2 separate regions of the Homo sapiens genome follow, and region 2 is linked to region 1. The links come from fine-mapping of genetic effects on gene expression. Tissue or cell type: whole blood. Region 1 holds a variant in brackets; the other region holds the start of a gene. All regions are shown on one strand. Distances are from middle to middle.

What was found. PIP is the estimated chance that this variant, and not a neighbour inherited with it, causes the effect.
Region 2: it holds the start of RAI1, and the variant in region 1 is fine-mapped to the expression of RAI1 in whole blood (TOPMed, PIP above 0.99).

Annotation. Positions count from the first base shown.
Region 1 is chr17:18,318,437-18,326,533 of GRCh38, forward strand. It overlaps SMCR8 (SMCR8-C9orf72 complex subunit), which reads left to right. Exons shown (of 2, transcript NM_144775.3): 2 at 4,181-8,097. The coding sequence ends at 4,634. Among named protein-coding and RNA genes, the nearest start is that of SMCR8, 7.2 kb to the left of the region's middle. RefSeq lists silencers at 3,053-3,245, 7,288-7,397 and enhancers at 3,757-4,258, 4,259-4,758. The variant G/A (reference allele first, on the strand shown) is at 3,719.
Region 2 is chr17:17,677,724-17,685,825 of GRCh38, forward strand. RAI1 (retinoic acid induced 1) reads left to right here and starts at 3,735. Exons shown (of 6, transcript NM_030665.4): 1 at 3,735-4,070. RefSeq lists silencers at 3,456-3,965, 3,996-4,135, 4,196-4,275, 4,287-4,459, 4,446-5,395 and an enhancer at 3,776-4,377.

The sequences.
Region 1 (8,097 bases):
CTTGTACCCCAGGCTGGAGTGCAATGGCGCGATCTTGGCTCACTGCAATCTCCGCCTCCCGGGTTCAAGCAATTCTCTTGCCTCACTGTCCTGAGTAGCTGGGATTACAGGCGCCTGCCACCACACCCGGCTAACTTTTCTATTTTTAGTAGAGACAGGGTTTCACCATGTTGGCCAGGCTGGTCTGGAACTCCTGACCTTAGGTGGTCTGCCCACCTCAGCCTCCCAAAGTGCTGGGATTACAGGTGTGAGCCACCGTGCCTGGCCGGAAAGTTTTTAAAATCATGGATTCCTGAGTCACAAGCCCTCGAGGTTCTGATTCGGTTGGTGTGAGGTAAGACATGGAATTTATCTGTCGCCATTGCCAGCCCGACTGCAGGGAGCATCTCTCTATAAAAGCAAAAGGCCCATCAGAAGGGACAGATGACTCCGGGGGAAAGGGTTAGGCTGCTGTCCCTGTAAGTGCTCTTTCAACCTTCAGAGCACGTGCAGATGTTGGGTGCTGGGAGCATCTGCCTCCAGCATCCTACACAGGCATGAGGTGCAGCGGGCAGGTGTGGGGAGCCCTGCACCCTGGAGGGTCCCCTGCGGGGCCAAACGGGAATGGGATGGGCTACAGCTCACCCAAAGAATTCCTGGGGGAGGTGAGCAGTAGACGCCACCTGAGGGTATGATAAGATGAAACTGTTGTGGGCTGTGGCAGTTAGCGGGAGCAGTGGGTGGTCTGGGTCAAGTCCTGGTGTGCCACCACTCGCTGTCTGGATTCGGACCAACCATCTCATTCAGTCACCCAATCATGTTGAACACCTCTGAAGGGCTCCCGGGGCCCACCTGAGAGCCATCGGAAGGGTCCACGTTTAGTGCATGTCCAAAAAAACACAGCACAGTGCAGTGCTTGGCCCTGAGAAGCACTCAGAGGGTGGAACCGGCACCGACACAGGCAGGCAGACTGGGGCCTACCTGAGGCCCAGCTTTAAAAATCACGAGCAGGAGAGATGTCTTCGGTGGTTGTGACCTTCCTATCCTCGGAGGTGTTGCGCTGCAGAGGCTCTGCACTCTGAGCACCACGGCCCAGAAGTGTGCCTCCTCACTCAGGCCCACTGCTCACATGATGGACTCTCTTTCAGGACTCTCACCTCCGAACACCAGTCTTGCTGGCCCTTGATTTTTTTCACTCTGCCTGGAAATGCTTGTAGTTGGGTCAGCCATCTGTGGGGATAAGAGATGGCTAAACAACCAAGCTGGTATCCTGTCATTTGCGGGTTTTTTTGTTTTGTGTGTTTTTTGTTGTTGTTGTTGTTGGAGACAGAGTCTTGCTCTGTTGCCCAGGCTGGAGTGCAGTGATGTGATCTCAGCCCACTGCAGCCTCTGCTTCCTAGGCTCAGGTTATTCTCGTGCCTCAGCCTCTCCAGTAGCTGGGATTATAGGCGTGCGCCATCATGCCAGGCTAATTTTTGTATCTTTAGTAGAGACAGGGTTTCACCATGTTGGCCAGGCTGGTCTCAAATGATCGGCCCACCTCAGCCTTCCGAAGTACTGGGATTATAGGCGTGAGCCCGGCCCTGCTGTCATTTTAAGTGAACACCAGGGGTCATCCTATTGCTTACTAAGCAGCAGTCACAAGCCCAGACCGAAAAGCAGAGCACAGTTCTGCCTGGAGAAAGTGCTAGCCTAGCGTGTGTCAGAGGCCCTGGGTTGAGTCCTGGCTTGACCACTTGCTAGCTAGGTGACCTTGCACAAGCTGCCGCTTTACCCAGTCCTCTGTGTCCTCATTGGTGGAGAGGTGTCCTCCTGCGGCGGGCATGGTAAGTGCAATGTGAGGCTGCAGTTGGGGTGCCGTGCGCTTGGGGGCTGGAGAGCTGAGGCTTGTCCCTTCCCGTGTCATCTGGCCTCCTGAGGAGGAGCTTTATGGAAACAGAAGTGGAGGAACAGTTAGAATAGCCAGCTTCTTCCAAAAGAAGTGCCACCATTGGGGCAGGTGTCAGCTGCATCAGGGGATGCTGGGCCTGGGAACAGGTATCCCAGCAGAGACGGAGGGGCAAAAAGGTGGGAGGTGAGGCCTGGGTGCCCTGTGGCGGCAGCACCTGTGGAGCTGGATGTGCGGAGCTTGGGAGGTGTTTGACTCTGGCCAGCCCCACTTTAGGGAGGTGAGGGTGAAGGCGTTAGAGAGCTGAGAAGGTCCCGGAACACAGGGGCCATGCAGCATGGGTTGAGGAGAGCGTCTCACTGCCCTCATGAGCTTTCTTAGCTGTCAGCCACCTGCAGGCCCCAGTTCCTCCATGCCTGTGGGATGCATGTGGTCCATAGCCCAGTGCTGTCCCTATGGTCAGGATGCATGCAGTATGCATGGCCTGTCTCAGCTGTCCCATCTCTGTGACCTTGCTTTTGCCGTGGTCTGCCACACCCTCCTCAGTCCCTAGAGCCCACGCTGCTTCTGAGGGCCAGCTCTGAGGCAACTCCACGAATCCCCCAGGTCTTCCCAACTACAGCCTCTCCCAGGGAGAATGAGACCTTGTCTCCCTTCACTTCACTGTACTTGTGCACATTTCTTTTTTTCTCAATCAGACTGAGCTCATGCAGGACAAGAGTTCTAGGTCATTCTTCATTACAGTGTTAGCTCCCAGGTCAATGTTGGGATGTTATAGATGCTCTGTAAATGATTGTTAAATATACAAGAAGATAAAACCCAGGAAGGAAAAAGTACTGTGAGAGTACCTTGGTCCCAAGTCACCGTCAGTCCTTCTTACACCATACCTGTCTGACGTAAACCCTAAATGTCTGGGCCCTACAGGGCAGTCCCTGCTGCTCTGGGGAAGCTGCTTCAGGAGGGTGTTTAAGGAACCGCTCCCCTCACTGAGTGAACACTGGCTTTTCCTGGCTCTGATGTGCCAGGCATTGGGGGCATGAGACCAGATCAGGTGCAGTTCTGGGACCCTAGAATCTTGGAGCTGCTTGTCCAGTGGGGAGAAGCCAATGAACAAACAGCAGTCACCCCACTGGTCAGTGCTAGGCTAAAAGTAGTGATGGCGATGACAGCAGCGCCTACCGAGGGCCAGCATTGTCCTAAGCACAACTCATTTTGTCTCCACAGCGACCCCATGAGGGATGTAATAGTAGTAACTGGCCTGTACAGTGGCTCATGCCTGTAATCCCAAATCTTTGGGAGGCCAAGGCAGGAGGATCACTTGAGCTCAGCAGTTCAAGACCAGCCTGGGAAACATAGCAAACTTCCATCTCTACAAAAAATTATCTGGGTGTGGTGGCATACGCCTATAGTACCAAATACTTGGGAGGCCAAGGTGGGAGGATTCCTTGAGCCCAGGAGATGAAGGCTGCAGTGAGTCATGATCGTGCTACTGCACTCCAGCCTGCGCAACAGAGCAAGACCCTGTCTCTAAATAAATAAAAACAGTAGGAATGTTATCTCCATCTTATAGGTGAGGCTCAGAGAGGTTAATGAATTTGGCCAAGGTCACAGCAGGAAAGCAGGAGAGGATCAGGGAAGGCTGAATATGCTTTAAATTAAGCTAAGTACAAGAGAGAGAGGTTATTTCAGGCAGAAAGAAGAGGTTTTTTTGTTTGTTTTGTTTTTTAAGACAGAGTCTCGCTCTGTTGCCCAGGCTAGAGTGCAGTGGCACGATTTTGGCTCACTGCAAGCTCTGCCTCCTGGGTTCACAGCATTCTCCTGCCTCAGCCGCCCAAGTAGCTGGGACTACAG[G/A]CACCTGCCACCACACCCGGCTAATTTTTTGTATTTTTAGTAGAGACAGGGTTTCACCGTGTTAGCCAGGATGGTCTCGATCTCCTGACCTCACGATGCGCCTGCCTCGGCCTCCCAAAGTGCTGGGATTACAGGTGTGAGCCATTGCACCTGGCCTGAACAAAGAGGTTTGTAATTCTAAGGCCCCACTGAAAGCTTGCCATGGCTCCAAAAAAGAGTCCATTCAGCAGGAATCGGACCACAAAGGGCTTTGTGGGCCACCCAGCGTGTTTTTGACCTTGGTCATAAGAGTGGTGAGGAGCCCTTTGAAGATTACAATGATCAGATTTGTCTTCCAGGAAGAGCCAGTGCATGCTGGCTAGGTGGATGCTGGCCTGGGGACAGGAGGCCTCACCTCCCAAGCTTCTGCCTCCACTTTCCCGGCCCTTGCCCTTCCTCCTGACCTTGGCCTGTCTGTTTCAGAGTGGCCTCCCCTGCCGGTGCCGGTACCCTCCATGCCCTGAGCCGCTACAGCCGCTACACGAGCATCCTGGACCTTGACAACAAAACCCTGCGCTGCCCCCTTTACAGAGGCACCCTGGTGCCCCGCCTGGCAGACCACCGCACACAGATCAAGCGGGGCAGCACCTACTACCTGCATGTCCAGAGCATGCTCACCCAGCTCTGCTCCAAGGCCTTCCTCTACACCTTCTGCCACCACCTGCACCTGCCTACCCACGACAAGGAGACAGAGGAGCTGGTAGCCAGCCGCCAGATGAGCTTCCTAAAGCTGACCCTGGGTCTGGTGAATGAGGATGTTAGGGTGGTCCAGTACCTGGCTGAGCTGCTGAAGCTGCACTACATGCAGGAATCTCCAGGGACCAGCCACCCCATGCTCAGGTTTGACTATGTCCCCAGCTTTTTGTATAAAATCTGAGGTCGGTCCCAGACACTGTGACCAAGACCTGTGACTCAGGGTATGGGGAGGGGAGGGGTTGGCATGACCAAACAGTTGCCTGAGCTGGACTGTTTAAGTTTCTGGTGTCTGGCAGCATGGTTCCCACGTGGCTCCTAGTAGTTTTTAAGTTGGACATGGGCAGAAGTGGAGCCTGGCTCCCTCTAAAGGCGTCTGGAGGGATGGTGACAGCTACATTTGGCTCCCTGGTGAAGAGTGGCCCCTGGATATGGAGGGGGCCTTGGTTTTCTGAGGACTGGCAGCCAGGGCAGAAGGGAAGCCACCAGTCCCTTGGTGGGGCAGGGTGAGGGCAGGAAGGCCAAAGCCTGATGGGAGGAGCACACTGGCTGTATTCAGCATTGCCGGACACTTGAGTGGCAAAATGAACGAGGGTGACAGCCAGGTAACTGTTGTGGTTTGGTGGAAAACAGGAGGGCAGAACACCCATCGCCTCCTTCAGACCCAGATGCAGCCCTTTATTTGCTTCCTGGAGCCCACTGTCCTAGGGGAGGCCCTGGACCAGCCAGTGGGGGTGAGAAAGGCTGCCACCCTCTGGGTCGTGGGAAACATGCGACCTTGGCCTCAGGGCCACAGAGCGTGAGCAGCACCCTGTCCGCTGTCCTCGCCACCTTTACCTGGGAGAGAAGTGCCTGTGAGCGGGCCTTGGGACTCACTCCCCATACTCTTTCACCAGGAACGAGCAGAGTGTTCACTAGTCCTAGTGTGAAGCGGGCACAAGTGACCAAAGCCAATGGTGAGGACCACCTTGGGGGCTGGAGAGCACAGCAGGCAGAGCAGGGCTGAGGCGCCATGAGGCCATCACCACCATGCAAGGGAGGAGCAGCCAGCAGCTCTCCTGGGTGGCCCACTGGCTCCTGCCGGCCAGAGCGCATGAGCACTGACCTTCCTCGTGGGGAAGGTCTGCAGACCCGTGTGAACATGGCAGAGGCCACACTCCAGCTCCCACCCACATAAACCTTTGCAACCACTTCACTACCTCTCACTGGGTCTCGTGGGCTTGGGACAGCAACGGTTCTGTTTAGTCAGCTGGTGCAGGTGGTTGGCCCAGCCGATGAGAACTCAAATAGCACGGATTTCCTGGATGAGCTACCACGTGGCGCTCTTCAGGTTCTGCCTCTGGGAGGCTGTGTGCACCTCAGTCACCACAGCTCACGGCCGTCCCCAGTTGAGTCCCCCTTCTGAGGACAAGTTTGAAACTGGGAAGGAGACACCCCCTGGTTCCGCCAGCACCTATCCCACTGATAGTGATCCCCTGGCCTCCCCGAGCCTCCTTAGGCAATGGCCACTGGTTTGTAGACAGAGAGTTTCTTGCAGCCTTGAAAATTTTATTCCCTAAGTGGGGACAGCTCTGGTATTACTGCTTCTTTAATTTGTTCCACAAAAATTATGCTGAAATGGACCTGAATCAGCCCTGGGTGTGCTTCTGTTGGCGCCTGCTGCTGAGGCCCGGCCTGCCCATCGGCCTGTAGTACGCCATCGAGGTCATCATGGAGCCAGCCAGCTTCTCTTCTCATCAAGGAGGCAGAGACCCCTGGTGGAAGCCAAGAGTGACCGAAGAGGGCTTGCATCACGTCACTCCAGTGGTTCCCTCCTTGTCCAAGTCCTCGTTTTAAGGGCATGGCCCGTTGGCTCCAGCCGTTGGCTTCTGTTCAGGGTCCTTGCTCCCATCAGAGGTGTTTGATTTTGCTCCTGGGGCTGCGATGGAGAACCTTTTGTGGCAGATGGTGCTGCCTACATCTCATTGGTTCTCTGTACCTGTGCCCGTTGCGCATGTTCACAGACAGGAGAGTCGCCAGCAATACCTTGGCAGCCTTTAAATGTGAAACGTCTGTTACTTGCGCTGGAGGCAGAGGCTGTGCAGGGAGCCTGCTTCTAATCGTGGGCTCCCTTATCTGTTACGGTTCCCTCCCCTCCTGTTCTAGATGCTGATTCGTTTTCTCACTGGCTGGTTAATTGCTGTCTACTTAGGCCTCCAAGGCCATAACTGTGCAACATTTTATCTGAGAAGGAAGGAAGGTCAGAAAGTGATCACTGGCACCACCACTGTGGCATTCCTGTCACACCAACACAGAAATTCACAGCTCATACTGTTCTCACCTGGGAAACTTGGGAAGGGCTGATGAGTTTGGGGCAGATCCTGAATTGCAGCCACACTTGGCCTTCTAGAAGCTGAAGTTGTGCCCTCAAGTGGTCCTAAGTAGAAGTCCACTTGAGGTATTTGCTGGCACACACCCTCAAGGGTGGTTCAGAAGGTCCTGAAACCTAAGGCAAAAGGCTGCTGGGGCATGAACAGAACAGACCGTCTCAGGGGCAGCCATGTAAGTGGCAAGCAGGGCTGGTCTCCCTCAAGGTGGTTCTTCATTAAGTAAAGATGGCTTCGTGACTAGTGTTTAGCTCCCAGATTTATATTTGGGTTAAAAACTAACTTTTCAATGTGGCAGTTTCAAAGGATTACTTGATGCAAAGTATGTTTCCTTTCAAAGGGATCTTGACGTGGTACCAGGACTGAGTCATGATTTGGGCAGAGGCAGTTAACACTGGGAAGCCCTGCCCCTCCCTATGCCCCCTTCACTCCGGGGAACTGAAACCTACTCTGAGTCTCACATCTCTAAACCTCAGTGCTGAGACCTATGCAGTGGGACTAATCTCATCAAGAATTTTCAGTTGAGGCCGGGCGCAGTGGCTCACGCCTGTAATCCCAACACTTTGGGAGGCCGAGGTGGGCGGATCACCTGAGGTCAGGAGTTGGAGACCAGCCTGGCCAACATGGTGAAACCCCATCTCTACTAAAAATACAAAGAAAGTTAGCCAGGTCTGGTGGTGCGTGCCTGTAATCCCACTTACTCGGGAGGCTGAGGCAGGAGAATCACTTGAACCCAGGAGGCAGAGGTTACAGTGAGCCGAGATCGCGCCACTGCACTCCACCCTGGGCAACAAGAGCGAAAACTGTCTCAAAAAAAAAAAATTTTTCATTTGAGGTATTCTTCCAGTAGAAGGTTAGTAAGTTTTTAATGAAACCATTAAAAATTACACTTCCCAGAAAATAGATGACATCAGTGCCCCTTGCTACTTTCTCAGTCCTCACTATTGCTTTGAGGGCCCAGGTACTGAAACTGGTTGTCTTGAGTTTTGTGTCAGCTTTTTCTCCAGTCCATTATCCCCCTCCCTTGCTTCTGAAGCAGTCTAGGTTAAACTAGCCAGGCAGGTAGTTGTGGACTGGTGATTTTCAAAAGCCCCACTTTAGAGATCAGGCCACAGCTTTTTATATCGCACAGGACACATCAGCCTGAGCTGCTGCCTCATGCCTGTTTCCCCAGGAACCTCACTCCTTTGGTAGAACCTTGGGATTTTAGAAATTGTGGCTTTTCCATAACTCATTTACTCCAACAGTTGAAGTTACACACATTGCTCCCAAATTTGGAAA
Region 2 (8,102 bases), 640 kb before region 1:
GGATTATCCAGGTGGACCGGAATGGAATCACAAGGGTCCTCATGAGCAGAGGCAGGAAGGTCAAGGGAGGAAGTAGAAGCTGGGACAATGGAAGCAATTGTTTTCTTGCCTGTTCTAGCTTCTGGAGGTCACCAAGGGGTCACAAGCTGAGAAACACAGGCAACCTCCAGAAATTGGAAAAGGCAAGGAAGAGATTCTCTCCTGGAGGCACCAGGAGAGCTAGCCCAGCCCACACCTTGGCTTTAGCCCAGTGAAACTGATTTTGGAGTTCTGACCTCCAGAACTGTAAAGAATAAATCTGTCTAGGCTGGGCAACATGGTGAAACCCACTCTCCACAAAAAATACAAAAATTAGCTAGGCTTGGTGGTGTGGTATGTGCCTGTGGTCTCAGCTACTTGGAAGGCAGAGGCACGAGAATCACTTGAACCCGAGAGGCAGAGGTTACAGTGAGCCAAGATTGCGCCACTGCACTCAAGCCTGGGCAACAGAGCAAGACTCTGTCATAAATAAATAAATAAATAAATAAATAAATTAATTAATTAATTAATTTGTGTTATTTTAAGCCACTTGTGGAATTTGTTACAACATCCCTAGGCACCTGGCACACAGTAGGTACTCAAAAGTGGCAGTTCTGGTCAGGCGTGGTGGCTCACACTTGTAATTCCAGCACTTTGGGAGGCCAAGGCAGGAGGATCACTTGAGCCCAGAATTCAAGACCAGCCTGGGCAACATAGCAAGATGCCATCTCTATAAAAAATAAATTGGCTAGGCATAGTGGTGTATGCCTGTGGTCCCAGTTACTCAGGGGGCTGAGGTGGGAGAACTGCTTGAGTTCAGGAGTTTGAGGCTGCAGTCAGCTATGATCACACCATTGCACTCCAGCCTGGGCAACAGAGTGAGACTCTGTCTTACACACACATATACACACATTCACACTCACACACAAAAGCAGTTGTTAGTACCTTGACCGCACACCCTCTTCCATCTGCCTGCATATTCCTTCCTCCTCTCACTCTCTGGGACACCCATCCCCTTTGCAACCCAGGGCTCCCTTCCTGCCCATCCTCTGAGGTCTGCCTCAATCGCCACCTCCTCCAACCCTTCGCTGAACTGACATCCAGAAATGCTAATCCCTTGAACAAATGTGCTTCCTTGAGTGGTGCCTGAGCTATGGCTCCCAAAGAGGCCAGGCTTGTGATCCTCTTTGTACCCCCAGCCCTGCCTACAGGGTCCAGTGGCCCCAGTCATGTAAACTTGATACCAAGGAATTTTCAAAACAAAAAATACCTAATTCCAAGGCCAGAAAATTGACTCTCCTTGGGGTTCCAGCTGGTCTCCCACCCTCTCCAGGTGGAGAAGCTAGTCTTGGGGACCCTTGTGTGGGAACCAGAAATCTCCCAGCAAGACCTCCTTGTCTTGCCTCCCACTGGGGTCCCTAGAACCAGCCTTCCCTTAGGCTCCACTCAGGAGCAGGTTAAGGTAAGGCAGGGAGGGCAGGAGACCAGCTCGGGGTGGAGATTGGGAGCCCTGGATGGATGATAGGGACTGTTCCCATTAATCTAGCATCTTAAAGCAGTAATAGCACTTACTGCATGCCAGGCTGTGAGCTAAATGCTTTCCACACGTACCTCATTCAATCCTCTCAACAGACCCATGAGGTAGGTACTATTATCCCCATTCTACAGATGAGGAAACGGAGGCTCAGCAAGTTAAGTAGTTTGCCCAAAGCCACCCAGCTGGGCATAGAGGAGCCACGTTTAGAAACCAGATTTGCCAGGCGCGGTAGCTCATGTCTGAAATCTCAGCACTTTGGGAGTCCGAGGCAGGTGGATCACCTGAGGTCAGGAGTTCAAGATCAGCTTGACCAACATGGAGAAACCCTGTCTCTACTAAAAATACAAAATTAGGTGGGTGTGGCGGTGCATGTCTGTAATCCCAGCTACTCGGGAGGCTGAGGCAGGAGAATTGCTTGAATCTGGGAGGCAGAGGTTGTGGTGAGCCAAGATCGCACCATTGCACTCCAGGCAGGGCAACAGGGGCAAAACTCCGTCTCAAAAAAAAAATACATAAATAAATAAATAAAAATAAACCAGATCTGTCATCCAGAAACCGCACTTAAAACAAGCTTAAAACAACACAGTTCGCACTGGGATCCAGCTCTGTCTTGCTCTTGACATTCACCCTGGGAGACGGGTAGCCAAGTCCAGTAGGAAGGACTGTGGGGACCTGTGTTGATTCTGTCCTGTAGCTTGAGAACCTGGACAGGGGACTTCACCACTCTGCGCCTGTTTCCTCATCCACAAAATGTGATGAGCCGACCTCACAGAGGGGGCACCAGGATCTAATGAGACCATGCACAGAAGGGGCACAGCAGGCCTGGGACAGAGTGAGGGCCCCCCATCTATCACAATACCTTATTTTGCAGATGCAGGATTCACTTGTCCCAGGTCACCCACAAGCTCTGATGCCTTGACCAGCTCCCCTCTGCCCTACCAAAGGACAAATGAGGGAGGCTTCGATGGGGCTGTTAATGGGGTCATATCCCACAGACCCTAGAGCCTGGGTGGGGCTGAGAGGCTTCCCAAGCAGGTGGCAGTGAGCTCCCACCTGAGCTATGGCAAGTAGAGACCTAGGCATGAAATTGCTCCGAGGTCTGTACCTTAAGTTTCATGCAAGGACTCTCTCATTCAACATGCCTCTGTTTAAAGTCTGCCAGTGGCTACCTTCCTTGCACTAGAATTGCAAACAAATTCCTCACTGAGCTCTCTGCAGCCCTGCAGGCTCTGGCCCTCCCGATATGGCTCTGACTTCAATGTGCCCATTACTTGTCCCCTTGCTGACGGCCTCCTCACAATTCCACTTACTCACCAAGTTCTCTCCTGCCTCAGGACCTTTGCACTTGATGTTCTTTCTGCCAATGATGCTCTTCCCAGGAGGGCAGGCCCCTGTAGTCCCAGCTACTCAGAAGGCTGAGGTGGGAGGACTGTTTGAGGCCAGGAATTCAAGTTCGGCCTGGGCAACACAGCAAGACCCTGCCTCTAAAAGAACAAAATGCTCTTCCCAGACTCTACCCATGGCGGTTCCTCTTGCTATTTAGATCTTTGCACAGACAGGCCTCCTTCTCTCTCCCCCAGCCAAGGAGCCCTAGCCGTCACTTCACCTGCTAATTTTCGTCCTAGCACTTACTGCTCTAAAATTATCTTCGTCATGTATCTAAGCATTTGTTTGCTGTCTGTCTCTTCCCACCAGGATGCCAGCTCCACGACAGCAGGGACCGCATTGTCTCTGCTGATTCCTCAAGACTCAGCAAGGTGCCAGGTGCCCAGTAAATGAAGTTTACATGAAGCCAATGGAGTTTTGAAATCGAAAATGTTTCTCAAACTGCAAAGAAGTGGGCACAGGTGAGGGCTAATGGTGGGGTGAGGGTGGGGGCCTGGCCTGACGCTGGAAGCTCCTGTACGCAGGGCGCTAGTGTCCTCCCAGGCCGCACCGGGATCCCACCGCAGAGGCCCCCTCCCGCAGGCCGGCCAGCGGGCGGGGGGCGCGCAGTGGGGCGCGCGGACCGCCAGGGGGTGCTGTCGGGGCGCGCACGGCCCACCTGGCGCCCGGGGCCGCGAGCGAGCGCAGCCAGGCCGCCCGGGAACTTTTTTCCTCGCGCTCTTGCTCTCCTTCTCCCCCCGCGCGTCGCCCGCCCGCCCGTCCGCTCGTCCGCTCTTCCTGTGCGGAGGGGATCGCATTCCTCGCGGCACCCGCGGACACCAGGCAGGCCCGGCCGGGTGCGCGGCCAAGGCCCGCTCCCCGCGTCCCCGGGCGCCGCCCCCGCCCGCGGCTGGGCTCCGAGAGACGAGTGGGAGAGCGAGTGCAGCGAGGGCGAGAGGCGAGCCGAGCAGGCCGCCCTGCCCGCGGCCCTAGCGCCGGCGCGAGGAGGGGGCGCCGCGGCCCACCCTCCTTCCTGCCTGGCCGCGGGCCGGCCGGGCCGCCGCGCCCCGACCCCCATGGCCACCCAGGCCTCCGGGCCGCGAAGTCGCAGCGCCAGACCCAAGGCCCCCGAGTGAGCGCGGGCGCCGAGGTGAGCAGCGAGCGCCGGGGCGCGGGGGGCGCAGTGTATCCTGCCCCGGGGCGGGGGCGGCGCGAGGCGTCGGGATCCTAGGCCGGGTGATGAGCCGAGGCGGGTTCGGACGCCGAGCGCGCGCGCTGGGTGGAGATGTGGGGTCCGCGGGGTCCTTGCTTTGTGTGGTGTGGGGGGTGCGCGAGGTCACCGGATGGACGTCTGGGGAGCTGCAGGGTGGGGGCGCCCTGCGCCGCGGCTGAGGGTCTTCTGGGGGATGTGCGGCCAGCTGAGGTCGGGTGGGGGCATGGGGGCGCGAGGGGCGAGTGTGGCAAGGGATCTGCTTGCGCCGAGGCGCGGAGTCTTTGCGGAGCGTGGGGTGGGGACGTGGGGTGCATTCGCGGGGCGCCGGGGGCGGAGGTGAGCTTTGTGAGTGCGTCCGAGGTGGGGGACGGGGAGCTGACTTCCCCATGCGTGACCCGGGCCCGGCGTGGCCATCGCTTGGGAGTCAGGGCCGGCGAAGGCCGTGCGTGGCGAGATGGGTGCTCGGGCTCTCTGCGGTGTCCCTACCCGGGCAGCGGCCCCGGGGCCTGTGCGCAGGCCCCGAGGCCGGGCAGGAAGCGGCCCCCGCGACCTGGGGAGCTCTGTAGCGGCCAGGCCCGGGAGGCACGGGCCCTTCGGGGATGACGTCACGGGCGGGGGCCCCGGACACGCGAGCCTTGCGCCCCACAGACGGCGGCGCAGCCCGCCGCCCTTTTCGAGGCCGGCCCCCCCTCTCACGCGCCTTGAAGGCAGGGAACCCGGGAGGAGGACATGGGGGCCGAGTGCGGCGGGGACAAGGGGTGGCAGGACGCGAGGGTGACATTTGGAGCCTGGTCGCGCCAGGGGCCTCCGTGGTGGGGCGGAGGGGAAGCGAAACACCAGCCAGGCCCTAGGCCGTCGCGGCCCCAGCTTCCTGGGGCGCCCGTTTTCCCGGCTAGCAGTTTTCTTTCTTGGGGCTCTTGGTCGTTATCCAGTCCACGCAGGGGCCGGAGTGCGGGCTGCCGCGGTGCTCTCCTGCGCGGAGCCCGGGCTGGCGGGGGCGCGGCGGGCCTCGGGCTCTGAATGGATGGGAGCGAGTGTAACAATGCGCCGGTGGGGGCTGGGGGAGGGGAGGCCGCGCGCCTGAATGGCGGAGCCGGCCGGGCGCTGCTCCGCGCGCCGCACACTCTCCCGCGCCGCCTTCCCCGCGGTTTCGGCGGGCCCGGATTCAGGGACCCACTCGGGATCTGCACGGTTCCTCCCACCAATACTGTCCCCCGCCCCCCTTTTATGTCTTTCCAATGCAGTAGTGTGTTGAGAATTCAAGGGCATTACATCTGGTTGCAATCCAGTTTCATGCCGCTGCCGGGCTGTTAAGACCTCGCGCTGACGTCAGAGCAGGGGAATTACTTCTTTTTATTTTATCTTTTTTTAGTTGTCTGCTGCCCTGGGAGGAGAGGCGGGGGTGGGTTAGGCTAGCTCTGATGTGGAGGCGCCAGCGTGATGGGAGCCCCGAGCTGGGGGCTCTGCTTCTCTTCCTGCCCCTGCCCCCCTCCATTCTCCATACAGTCCTCGCTCTGCTCAGGGTCAGGCCCACCCCAGGTGGGGGGCAGCCCTCGCTGCAGACTGAATGGTGGCCCCTCCCTGCTGACCACACAGCTGGGTTTTCAGAGGCTTTCCTGGGACGTGGCCCTCGGGATCTAGAAACTGGAAAGGAATCTTCTAGTTTCCCACCCCTCCCCCTCTTGACAGGCAAGCCGGTATATTCGGGGCCCAGGAGCAAGGAAAAGTGGCCTTTTGCGTGACACAGAAGTGGACACATCATTCTGATCTCAGGGCAGGCTCAGCCCCATAACTCTGGCAAAAGCTCTCACAAGCAAAAGCCTTGGAGAGGAGGAGAATGTATCAAGGTGAGATCCAGGCCCCAGAAGCCAACTGTGGAGTGGGCAAAATAGGACCTTTCCCACCAGCCTAGCATCCCTCTGGCTTCTGTGGAGATAAAGGGAACTCAGGGGTACTGGAGCTGCCTTTCTCTTCCACTAGACTGTGGGGCTCTCATAGGCAGGGACCCTGTCTTACTCCTCTTTGTTTTATTTTTGAGACAGGGTCTTGCTGTGTGGCCCAGGCTGGAGTGCCTTGGCACAAACACAGCTCACTTCAGCCTCAACCTCCAGGGCTCAAGCGATCCTCCAGCATCAGTCTCCTGAGTAGCTGGGATCACAGGCGCCCGACACCACACGTAGCTAATTTTAAATTTTTTTTTTTTTCTAGAGACAGGGGTCTTGCCATGGCTGGTCTTGAAGTCCTGGGCTCAAGCGATCCTCCCTCTTTGGCCTCCCAAAGTGCTGGGATTACAGGAGTGAGTCACTGCACCCAGCCTTACTCCTCTTTAGACTCCCAAGCCTAGACCAATTGCTTTCAAATTCTTGCCCGTGACCTATAGTAAGAAATACATCGTAGGTAACTACACAGGTCACACTGTATATAGCTGAAACAAAAGTTTACTGAAATAACTCCCTTACTGTGTCTGCTGGTCTGTAATCCTTTTTGTTCTTGTGTATTTGTTTTTTTTTTAATTACTGATTGCTACCCACGAAATTAATTTTGCAATCCACTGATGGGTCATACCCAGAATTTGAAAAAAACAAGCCTAGGAAATGAATTTGCCATCTATTCATGCAACAAATGTTAATTGCAACCCTAATAATTCCTCTCATGTTAAACTACTCAAGTAACACTTGGATACTTGGGTGAAAAATGCAAATAAGCCAGAAATATATGTAGTAAAAGTAAAAGTTCCCTTGGCACCCTCCCTGCAGGTAACCCCAGTTAATAGTTTGAACGTATCCTTCCAGACTTTTTGTTACTCACTTAATGCATATATATATATATATATATATATATATATATATATGTATGTATGTATGTATATTACATATACCAATCCATGCATAGTTTTCTTTTTCCCCAAGTGAGGACATACTGTGGGCTCTTCCTCGGCAGCTTCCTTTTTCCTCTCCGTTTGTCTTGGAGAGGTTGGTTGTGTGGCGAAGTCCTTCAGGGCAAGTTCTGGGTTGACTCCTGGCTCCACCACATACTGAACAGGCCATTTACCTCTCTGTGCCTCAGTGTCCCCATCTTTACAATCAGGAGAATAACAGTACAGACCTCACGGTACTGAAGTAAAGATGCAGTGAGTTAATCCATATGAAGTTTAGAGCAGTGCTTTTGCCAATAAATGCTGATTGCTGCCGTCATTGTTGTATTGTTATTGCTGTTCTATCTCCATGGCAGCCCATGTTTGAAATGCATTGCTTTCCACAGCTGCCTGTGGCCATGGCATGGGTGTCTTTTTCCTCCCCTATCCAACGTGTGGCTCCACAGGGAGGGAGGAGGTGCAACAGCAACGGTGTGCGCAGAGCAGCGTCTCTGCGGGAGAGGCACCTGGGCACTGGGCCCAAGGGAACAGGGATTTTCCAAGGACCCACTGTTTCCAAAGTTCTGTGCTTAATGTCGGGGTCCAAGCAGGAAGCATCCCTGCACTTGACCACAAGAAGGTCACAGCCCAGTGGGTGATTGGGACCCAGCTCATAGCCAAGGCCTCGACCAGAGCTGGAGGCTTCCTGGAGGAGGGGCCTTTGAGCAGGTGCTTCAGGCACGGCGAGGTAAGAGTGAGAGGAGCATTCCTGGCAGAGGGAACACAGTGAGCAGAGCGAGTCTTTGGAAGCTGGAAGGGATGTGGCCTGTGTGCTGTAGCCAAACAAGAGGGGAGGACTTGGCTCAGAAAGAATGGTGGCGGAAGAGGTTGGGCTGTTGCTGGGACCTCCTCACTGGCCTCCCTGCCTCCATCCTGTCCCCTCCCAGGTGCTGGCCAGCAGCACTGTCAGAGCGATCGTTCTAAACCCAGCAGATAACCTCCAGTGGCTCCTGCTGCCTTATGAATAAAGGTCCCATCTGTAGTTCTTCCCATGCTGTCCAGGGCCATTTCTGGTGTCCTCTGCCTGCCCTGTCCTCATTCAGTCCTGTCCCCTC